Regions from separate parts of the Homo sapiens genome. Here region 1 is linked to region 2. Evidence: fine-mapped expression QTL. A gene starts in region 2. The other region holds a variant in brackets. All regions are shown on one strand. Distances are between the middles of the regions. Region 1 has its middle 7.6 kb from the start of RGL4. Region 2 holds the start of DRICH1 (aspartate rich 1).

Region 1 (5,236 bases), 51 kb after region 2:
CACATCTCTCAGCTGGATCTGCCACGGGCTTTTTTTTATGACGTATCAACTGCTTCCCCATGTCTCTGAGTTGTTGAAAGTATCACAGCGGCAAACACATTTTTCTTTCTCACTTTTTTTTTTGCTGTTGAGATGGAGTCTCAATCGGATTATCCCCCAGGCTGAAGAGCAGTGGCGCAATCTTGGCCCACTGCAACCTCCGCCTCCTGAGTTCAAGCGATTCTCCTGCATCAGCCTCCAGAGTAGCTGGGACTAGAGGCACATGCCAGCACGCCTGGCTAATTTTTGTATTTTTAGTAGAGACAGGGTTTCACCATGTTGGCCAGGCTGGTCTCAAACTCCTGACCTCAGGTGATCCACCCGCCTTGGCCTCCCAAAGTGCTGTGATCACAGGCGTGAGCCACCATGCCCAGCAGGCAAACACATTTCTAGTTCATGCATACATATGCCAGGTGGGATGAACCTGCCCCGGGGCCCCTGATGGTGCTCATGGGTAGAGCAGGGTGATCCCCAGGTCCCACGATGGCATGGGACCTGATGCTGGCATCAGGTGGTCTGGCCTGTTGTTAGGCCCCCTGCTGGTGCAAGCACATGCCAGAAGTGGAAGGCAGGGCAGGTCTATACCCAGGTCCCTGGGTGAAGTACTTGGGTACTTGTGGGGTGGGGGTTCTCTGGGAGGGGTCAGCCTGTCCTTAGGCCCTGTGGGAGCCTGCATGGACACAGGTTGTGGTTGGTGGGCTGGGGTGATCCCCAGGCCCCTGAATGTCATCCTTGGGGACCAGGGGCAGGTGGGCTGGGTCTGTTGGCAGTCCTCCCTATGGTATGTGTCTGTGCCCATGGCAAGAGGTGGGCAGAGCAATTTCCAGGCTCCCAGGTGGCTTGCTTGGGTGGCAGTGGTGGTGACTGGTTGTGAGTGGGTTGAGTCTGCATTCAACAGTCAACTCAGAAACCCCAGACACCATTTTCCATGCCAACTGGCCTGTCCACCACTCAGAAAGGCCCTGGACACTGTGCCATGTGGCTGGCCCCGCATTGGGCCAGGCTTCCATGGGAGGCAGGAGGTCTGGGCCCTGCCCTGGGGAGGGAGAAGAATGGGACACAGGCAGTGGTCATTGAGCGGAAGAGACAGAATGAGCACAGGATGCTGTGAGGCGGTAAGTATAAGGAATCATGGAGCTGAAGGTGTTCATCTGACATATACCAGAAACTAACATAAGGTAGGAAAATACACAAAACCAACTAATCCAACAAAACTTGGGCAAAGAACTGATAGACATTTCTGAAAAGAAGGCAGGAAATGAACAGGTAAAAAAAAAAAGCTTGCCCACATCACTAATCATCACAAAAATTTAAATCAAATCACACTAAGACAGCGTCCCCATCCACATAAAATGAATGTTGCCAAAAGCAAAAACAGAATTTTTAAAACGCAATCACAAGTGTAAATTTACAGAGAGGGAAACTCTTAGACACTACTGGTGGGAATGTAAATGGGCGTACACACTATGAGCAATAGTTGGCAGTTCCTCCTCAAACTAAAAATACAATTACTATGTCATCTAGCAATCTCATCACTGGGAAATACAAAGTACATGGATGTATTATGCTCCCTGATTACAAATGACATAGAAGAGCTATAGTGGTCCAAACAATACGGTATTGACATTAACACAAAAATACAGAACAAGACACAACGAGGGAACCAAATACCAAACCCAAATTCATATATGATGGACACATTTTTAACAAATATACCCAGGGGATGGGAGACCCCGGGCTGCCTTCGGTTGGGGCTGCAGAAGTGTCCTGGGGGGACCTGCAGCCACCTCTCACCTGGGCTCTGGATGGTTTCTACTCCATGAGGATTTCCAGAGTTTCCCCTCAGCCACCCTCAGAGTCAGGGGGGCTTCCATGGGGCTGCAACCATCTGTCCCAGTCTTTCCTGTCTCTATGACACACCGTGTGACCTGTGTACACTGCGAGATGTAGGTGCGTGCATTGAAACCGTACAGTTAAGATGACCTACAACTGATGCTACTCTAAGTCTTCCAGAGATTTTTCAGATATCCCCAGAGTAAACCAAACTAGTGATATCCCATGGTTTTGCAAACCAGAACCAACAACTGCACAGAAACAGCTCCTTATGCGCCATCAGACACTCTCCAGACCTGCCCCTCACTCACAAATGTAACAAAGCAGCATGAACCCAGGCAGTCTTCACTCCTCAGGGCCACATAACAACCTCTATCGGTCAGGAAGCCTTTGATCTGGGCCAGGCTGC[C/T]GACCCACAGGGGTTAATTGTGCCTCTCATGCTGAGTGTTGTTTCTCCTCACTGGACTAACCCCCACCCTTCCACCAAGAAGGGCCCCCAGGGAAACTGCTGTTTGACATCCAGGAGCCCATGTGGAATGTTCCAGCAACCTGGATGGCCTTGGCCACCTCTAATACCAGCCTTTCCCTCTGTGGGGCTCCCTTCCTGGCTCTTGCTCATGCAAGTCAATCTAAAGTGGCTGAGATGTCCTGCTCCCTCACCCTCCTGGGTCACCCTGATGGCATAGGCAGGTGTCTGCATTCAAGAACGAGTTACCCACAGGCCAACTTCCCTGGTGTGGGGGACAATGCCTGGGGCCTCCAAACAGCCAGCCCCAGGTAAACAATCCAGCTCTGACACAGCTCAAAGACTGTGTGGCGTACCTGGAGAGACTCTCTGGTCCTGTGCCCTCTTCTGGCTCACTGGATTCTTAGGATTATTGAGAGACTGGGCTTAAAGCTCTCAGCCTAGGGCCCACAATGCCACAGGGAATCAAATCAGCATGACCAGGGATCGAAGACCTCTCCTTGGCTGGGAATGGGGAATCAGGGTTGCAGAGACAAGGGGCACAGAGAGATGCCTGTGCCATCAGAGAAGGGACTGGGGATCTGGTCCACTCTGGGCTCCTCAACCTGAGCGTGAGGCCTTGCTGTGCCATGAGCTCACCTGCCCCTTGGGAGTCCACTGTGACTGCAGTCCAGTGGGGTCAATGTCCACACTGATGCCGGAAAGAAGTCCTGGGAGATGCGGAGGGCATCCTGTAGCGGCAGGCAGTCTGGGTGGTCCACGGGTGTGAGCTTCAGCAGGTCCTGGGAAGGGATGAGGTGGTGAATTGGGGGCCGTGTTTTTGGGGTTCGATGAGAAGCTCCTGGGGGAATGCTCAGTCCTCACCAAAAGAATTCAAAGGGCAGGTACTCAGGGACCCACACTCGTGCCTGCAAAATCTGAACTGAAAATTAGAATCGGAGCAGCAGGGTTGATTCTAAAAGGGGCTGGGCTCGCTTTTCTCCCTGCTGCAGTCATTACTCGTTTCCCCTGGCAGAGGCAGCCGGGTGGAGGCTCATCTCTTCAAGCAGCTGGGAGAGACACCCCACTACCCACCCTGCAGCTGCTCCAAGGATACTGGAGACAAAAAGACAGGGGCTGGGGAAGCAAGATGTTCCTGCCTCGACCAAGACAGCAATTGGCCAAATGCCCTGACCCTGCTGGCATGGTTACCGCAGGCCAGGCAGGCATATTCAGGGCTCAGGATCCCTCTGCCTGACTTTTCAAATGGGCTGTTCTCAGTGACTCTGGCCCCCTCCCACCCTGGGCTCACTCTTGAGAAACTCCTAAGCCTTCTCTGGCCCTTCAGGGGCCTTAACGCTTATGTGTAGGACCAGGATGCTCTGAGTGACCTACTTGGTCAATGGGCTGCTACAGCAGAGCTGTTGGGGAAGGCAGAGAGAAAAAGGACAATGACAGACAAAGAACCACTCAACACCTCAGAGACCAGCTTTGTCCCCCACCCAACCGCCTTGCTCCCCACATGAACACCTGCTTGCAGGAAGCCAAAGTGGGTCCACAGCAGCCCACCTCTGTTCTCACTCCCAGGGCAGACAAAGCAGCAAGAACAGGTGACACACAGCCCCGGTGACCCTGTCCCCTCCCTACCCGTGCCTACTCTCCCATCAAACCTGGCTTCGAGGGCTGCCCGCCAGTCCTGTCCAGGCCTTATCTGGCTCAGAGCAGATGATCCCCTGCACCTCCCACCCTGAATCACACAGCTACACCCAGCACATGCTACAGAGGCCCAGCACACTCTGGATCACATCCAGAAACTCCACAATAGGGGAGGAGACATGCTGTTTCCCAGGAAGGGCAGCTCCCCAGACTTGGTCATTCTCAGACTCCTCCAGTCAAAGGCCGGGCACAGCCAGCTGGGATCGCCATGCTTCACTCTGACCCACACGACTGGCCTTGCCTCCTCTATGGGAAGAGACCCCTCAGCACAACCTCAAACCGAGACATAACAGGACAGGACAGGCTGGATGCTAGAGAGGCCAGCCAGATCTCCACACAAAGGCTCTGCTCTTAAGCAGGAGGTAGCCTGAGGGTCAAAGGTTTCCTGAAGCAACTCAGGTGAGACCTCACATACAAGAGCCCCAAAGAGGCTGCAAAAGCACCAGCTCAGCCAGCCAAGAACCCAGGTGTCACACCCTTCTCAGACCACTGAGGATCGCTGGGATTCAGCAGGAAAAGGTGGACATGACAGCTGATGGACCAATACTTCCCAACACCCTTCCAGCAAGCAGCTGTGCCCCGCCCCTCCCCACATGAGTCACTCAACTTCAGTCCTGCACATGGATGCCTTTGACCATGGGGTCATGGCTTTGGTCTCCTGCCATAGGGGCAGTGAGAGGAACAATGGTGGTCTGGGAAGGAGGATCCTAGACTGGGTGTCCCACAAGACCAGGCTGTGACAGATCCCAGAGCCAATACTCATGCGCCAGCCAGTCCCCAAACCCAACAGCTACCCAAAGCCCAGGATATAAATAGCCTGTGCACTGCTAAGCAGATACTTCAGGGAATGATCTGCTGGCTGTGAAGAAGATGCGGCCTCAGTAGGGTTCCACGAGCCTTCTGCCAGCAAAATCTTCTTTGCTTGGATGCCCATTAGAAACACTAAGGGAGCTCTTCAAAGGAACAGGCCAGACATGGTGGCTCACATCTGTCAACTCAGCATTGTGGGAGGCTGAGGCAGGAGGACAGCTTGAGGCTAGGACTTTTAAGACCAGCCTGGGTGGAACAGTGAGACCCCACCTCTACAAAAAACACAAAAATTAGCATGGCATGGTGGTGCATGCCCATAGTCCCAGCTACTTGAGAGGCAGAGAAGGGAGGATTCCTTGAGCCTGGGAGATCAAGGGTGCAGTGCCCATGATC
Region 2 (5,236 bases):
ACAGGTTTTTACCATGTTGGCCAGGCTGGTCTCAAGCTCCTGACCTCAGGTGATCTGCTGTCTTGGCATCCCAAAGTGCTGGGATTACAGGTGTGAGCCACCGTGCCCGGCCATGGATTGGAGCATTTCTAAGGCTTGAGGTACTCATGTTACTAAATACAATGCAATATCTTCCTGATCCTTCCCTGCTTTGACCAAGTGCTGAGGAATGACCCCAGCACTGACAGATGTTGACCTGCACTGTTCCATGTGATCCCTTACACTTCTCAGAATCTGTGAGCTGACCAGAAGCCTGTGAGCTTTCTATGTGTATTTCACAGTAATGCCCATGCCAACGTCTATTGTTCCGTGTACCTTTTGCTACCCAGAGTTATGTGACCACTGGGGCCCCATCTGATGGTGGGCAATGTTTGGCACACTTATAGGCCATCCACTACCACTACCAGGGGCACGCATAGGTGCTGGAACTCCCTGGTGTGGGGTCATATATCACGGTGGAGTGATGACACGGTTGAGTAATGCAGACCATCAACATCGGGACCCATTTCTGGGTTCACTTTTGCCTCTTCCATTCAGGAGGTCAAAATCTGGGTTCATTCCTTTCCACACTCTCTCTCTCTCTAAGAAGTAGGGATATTAAACTGACCTTCAGGTACACTGTGTTGAGTGAAAAAGAGGTCATTTATGTAAAGTGTATGGTGGTGCTGAAGTTTTTCTTCCTTTTTATTAGAAGAATGACATGACTTGGGAGGCTGAGGTGAGAGGACCACCATAGGCCAGGAATTCAAGAAAACTGACACTTGCACTTGTGCTGGGCATGCGGGTCCACATTTTTGGGGGAAAACACACATTTACAAACACTACACATTAATTCACCCCTGGCTATCTCCCAACCCTCATGCACACAAACCCACATCATCTAAATGACACGGCTGTTTCCAGGGACTCTAGTGGATGATGACAGTTCTTCACTGAGCCATCTGTTTCTCACACTGCACTCCAGGTCCTCACTCCTATCAGGAACCTGAAGCCAGGCAGGCTCTCCAGACAGAAGCAGGGAAGAGAGTCCCCTGCGAACCATCACTTAGATTTGTCATCAGCAAAGGAGTGGTCTTAGAATACGTACGGTGTTAGACAGGGAATGATACACACTGGGGCCTGTCAGGGGGCAGGGGAAGGGAGAGAATATGGATAAACAGTTAATGCATGCAGGGCTTCATACCTAGGTGATGGGTTGACAGGTGCAGCAAACCACCATGGCACACTTTTACCTACGTAACAAACCTGTACATCCTGCACATGTACCTCGGAACTTAAAAAAAATTAAATTAGGAGCCGGGCGCGATGCCTCATGCCTGTAATCACAGCACTTTGGGAGGCCGAGGCGGGCAGATCACCAGGTCAGGAGATCGAGACCATTCTGGCTAACACAGTGAAATCCCGTCTCTACTAAAAATACAAAAAATTAGCCGGGCGTGGTAGTGGGCACCTGTAGTCCCTACTCAGGAGGCTGATGCTAGAGAATCGCTTGAACCCAGGAGGCAGAGGTTGCAGTGAGCTGAGATCCCGCCACTGCACTCCAGCCTGGGCAACAGAGCAAGACTCCATCTAAAATAAATAAATAAATAAATAAATAAATAATAAATAAAATTTACAAAAAATAAGCTACCTTAAGAGATGGAAGAAAAACAATCTGACCCTTAGCTGGTTCCTTCATTTAGGTACCAAACCGGCCAGATAGGTGAGGCTAGAGAATGGGATGGGGACTCCAAAATTGGGGTATTTGAATTTTCATTGAGAAAAGGGCTCTCCCTTTTCTAGATCAAAAAGTCTCAACGACAAAGACAGGAGGCAGAGTCAGCCTTTGTCCCCCATGCCCAGACCTGGGAAAGCTGGCTATGGACAGGAGGGAGCTGGAAGCTGAGGATGTCTCTGGGGATGAGGGTAAGGGAAGGGGGTGGGGGTGGCCAGAGGTGTGCCAGAGGGTAAACGGCACCCGTGGCTTTTTTACCTGTGGGCATCTTTTGGTTGCTGATGTGCTGCAGGTCTTGGCCCTCCGTGGCTCCCACATCCAGCTTGCCAGGCTCTACAGTAGTGGATTCTGATGTTGCAGCAGCCACAGTCTCATAAATATCAGTATCAGATTCATAACAGGGTGCGTCCTTCCCCCTGGGCCAGCCACAGTGGGAGTTGATACAACAGGTCAGTATATTCCCCATGGGGCCTCTCCATGCCTCTCCACTCCTGCCTCAGCCTTCAGCGAAATTGTAACTGTGCTGCCCTAGCAGCCACACTACTGAGGGTGGCCCTGCACTTTTAGAAGCAGCCTGACCCCAGGCAGATCTGGGTCCTCAGCCCTTATTCTGCCGCCACCTCCCAAACTAGCTGGTCTATGAGGTCAGGGACCTGCTGTCTTCTTTGAAAAATAAACGAACATGACAAGCACCCAAAGGTGCAAAAACTGCCATCAAAGAGCACAGTTGGAGCTCCTCCTCCCTCCACTGCGAGCTACTGACTGAGGGCTGCTGGCCCTGGCTGATGCTTATAACCCACAAAGCTTCCTATGTCACCTGGTTACCAGGAAACAGCCAGGTCAGGCTAGTGACTCACAATGTCCAGCCCCACAGCCCCCCCCAATGCCTCATAATGCCTGTCCCTGCTGCTGCCCACCTTGTGGCCCCCCTGCCCCTCTGTGGGGACTGCACTACTCAGGCTTTTATTCACCCTATGCTGCCTGAGCTTTCCAGTCCTGAGCTAAGTGCAGGGGGAGTTGTTATTGCGAGTCACCCTTGGCAAGAAACTCAATAGAAAACCCTGGTATGGCCGGGAGTGGTGGCTCACGCCTGTAATCCTAGCACTTTGGGAGGCTGAGCGGGGGGGGTGGATCACTTGAGGTCAGGAGTTCAAGACCAGCCTGGCCAACATGGTGAAAACTTGTCTCTACTAAAAATACAAAATATTAGCTCGGCCTGGTGGCGGGCACCTGCAATCCTAGCTACTCAGGAGGCTGAGGCAGGAGAATCGCTTGAATCCAGGAGGCGGAGGTTGCACAGTGAGCCAAGATCACACCATTGCACTCCAGCCTGGGTGACAAAGGTGCAACTGTCTTTAAAAAAAAAAAAAAAAAAGAAACAAAAGAAAGAAAACCCCAGTTACTAAAGTCAGTTCCACCAGCAGTTCTGTTTTTCTGAGTCTGACAGCTTTCATTTGCTCACCAAATGTAGTTATACACAAATTTTTTACTGCTTTTCTAATTAAATGCTTCTCTCCTGTCTTACAAGTGTTAGTTCTTGTCTGCAACTTGACCATAGCTACCCCCAGGGCCCTGGTCCCACTCTCAATAGAGAGTTATGGCTGTGTATCCTCAGTGAAACCCTGGGACACATCACACTTCCCTCCTCGTCTATAAAATAGGGACTGAACACATCCTTCCCAGTTCTGTAATGCTACGACCTACCAACTCCCTTTTCTCGCTCTGTTTCTTCTTTCCATGGCAGGGGTATTCAGATATTTCTTTTATTTACTTATTTATTTATTTTTTGAGATGGACTATTGCTCTGTCGACCAGGCTGGAGTGCAGTGGCACGATCTCGGCTCACTGTAACCTCCACCTCCCAGGTTCAAGCGATTCTCCAGCCTCAGCCTCCTGAGTAGCCTGGACTACAGGCACACGCCACCGCATCTGGCTAATTTTTGTATTTCTAGTAGAGACGAGGGTTTCACCATGTTGGTCAGGCTGGTCTTGAACTCATCTCAGGTGATCCACCCGCCTCGTCCTCCCAAAGTGCTGGGATTACAGGCATGAACCACCATGCCCAGCCTCAGGTATTTCTTTTACTAACAAATCATAAAACATTATTTTCTTATACAAAATTGAGAACCCCACAGTGGGGTACCATTGTCCTCATAGGACAAAGACAAATAGTCAATATCTGGCAAGCATTATGTGCCTGACAGTGTTCCAACTGTGGCATACTAATTTAACCCTCAGAAATAGTCCCATTTTACACATCTTACAGCGTAAATCTAGAGGGAAAAGTCAAGTAACTTCCCCAAGGTCCCACAACTGCTCAGTGAGTTCAGGCAGATGAGCAAACAAAGGCTTAGAGTTCAGTTGTCTGAGGCTACACTGCAAAACAGTGGATGAACCTGGAATACAAAGGCTCATTCACTGTCCAGCAGTAGAGTTGAAGTAGAGTTTAAGTTTTATTCTGGAAACATGAGAGTCACGGAACCACACAGAGGTGAGGAGTCTCTATCAGATGTGTTTGCAGTGAGGTCTCTCTGCACAATAGAGAAGGACTCATGGAACCAGTGGGACCAATTAAGAGACATGATGTTGGGAGGCCAAGGTGAGTGGATCATTTGAGGTCAGGAGTTCGAGACCAGCCTGGCCAACATGGTGAAACCCCATGTCTACTAAAAATACAAAAATTAGCCTGGCATGATGGCGGGTACCTGTAGTCCCATCTACCCAAGGGGCTGAGGCAGGAGAATCGCTTGAACCCAGGAGGTGGAGGTTGCAGTGAGCCAAGATCACACCACTGAACTCCAGCCTGGGCAACAGGGAGAGATTCTGTCTCAAAAAAAAAGAGAGAGAGACATTATGTTCATCTGGAAGAACAGATAAGGCCAAAGGAAGTAGAAATGACTGAAGTGGACAGAGAAGTTCTGTGATCATTTGGCAGAGAGAACAGAAAGTGCTAGAGGATTAGATGTGGAAGAACAGGGGAAGGAAAAGGAAAAACAGGCTGCTAAGGCTCTAGTTTGAAGGACTGGGTAAATAGCAGTGAATGTCTCCTACAAAGACAATGTAGGAAGAGGAATAGGTATGGGGAATAAGATAGTTTTCGGCTGGGTGCAATGACTCACGCCTGTAATCCCAGCACTTTGGAAGGCCGAGCTGGGTGGATTATGAGGTCAGGAGTTCGAGATCAGCCTGGCCAACATGGTGAAACCCCATTTCTACTAAAATTACAAAAATTAGCCGGGTGCGATGATGGGCACCTGTAATCCCAGCTACTCAGGAGACTGAGGCAGGAGAATTGCTTAAACCTGGGGGGCGGAGTTTGCAGTGAGCCGAGATTGTGCCACTGCACTCTAGCCTGGGTGACAGCGTGAGACTCTGTCTCAAAAAAAAAAAAAAAACACCACATAGTTTTGGACTCTTAAGTATCGCATTGAAATGGAGCTCTCTGGTAGAAAGTTGGACAGAAACCTCTGTAGGCTAAGTCCA

Evidence for each region. PIP is the estimated chance that this variant, and not a neighbour inherited with it, causes the effect. A credible set is the group of variants that fine-mapping cannot tell apart.
Region 1: its variant is the best candidate, but not a certain one, in a credible set for the expression of DRICH1 in whole blood (TOPMed, PIP 0.60).

What each region holds. Positions count from the first base shown.
Region 1 is chr22:23,680,748-23,685,983 of GRCh38, forward strand. It overlaps the pseudogene GUSBP11. Among named protein-coding and RNA genes, the nearest start is that of RGL4, 7.6 kb to the right of the region's middle. RefSeq lists a silencer at 4,415-4,709. The variant C/T (reference allele first, on the strand shown) is at 2,282.
Region 2 is chr22:23,629,805-23,635,040 of GRCh38, forward strand. It overlaps DRICH1 (aspartate rich 1), which reads right to left and starts at 2,517. Exons shown (of 12, transcript NM_016449.4): 1 at 2,012-2,517. The coding sequence starts at 2,219. It overlaps LOC124905089 (a long non-coding RNA gene), which reads right to left. Exons shown (of 3, transcript XR_007068021.1): 3 at 3,072-3,106. RefSeq lists a silencer at 3,556-3,693.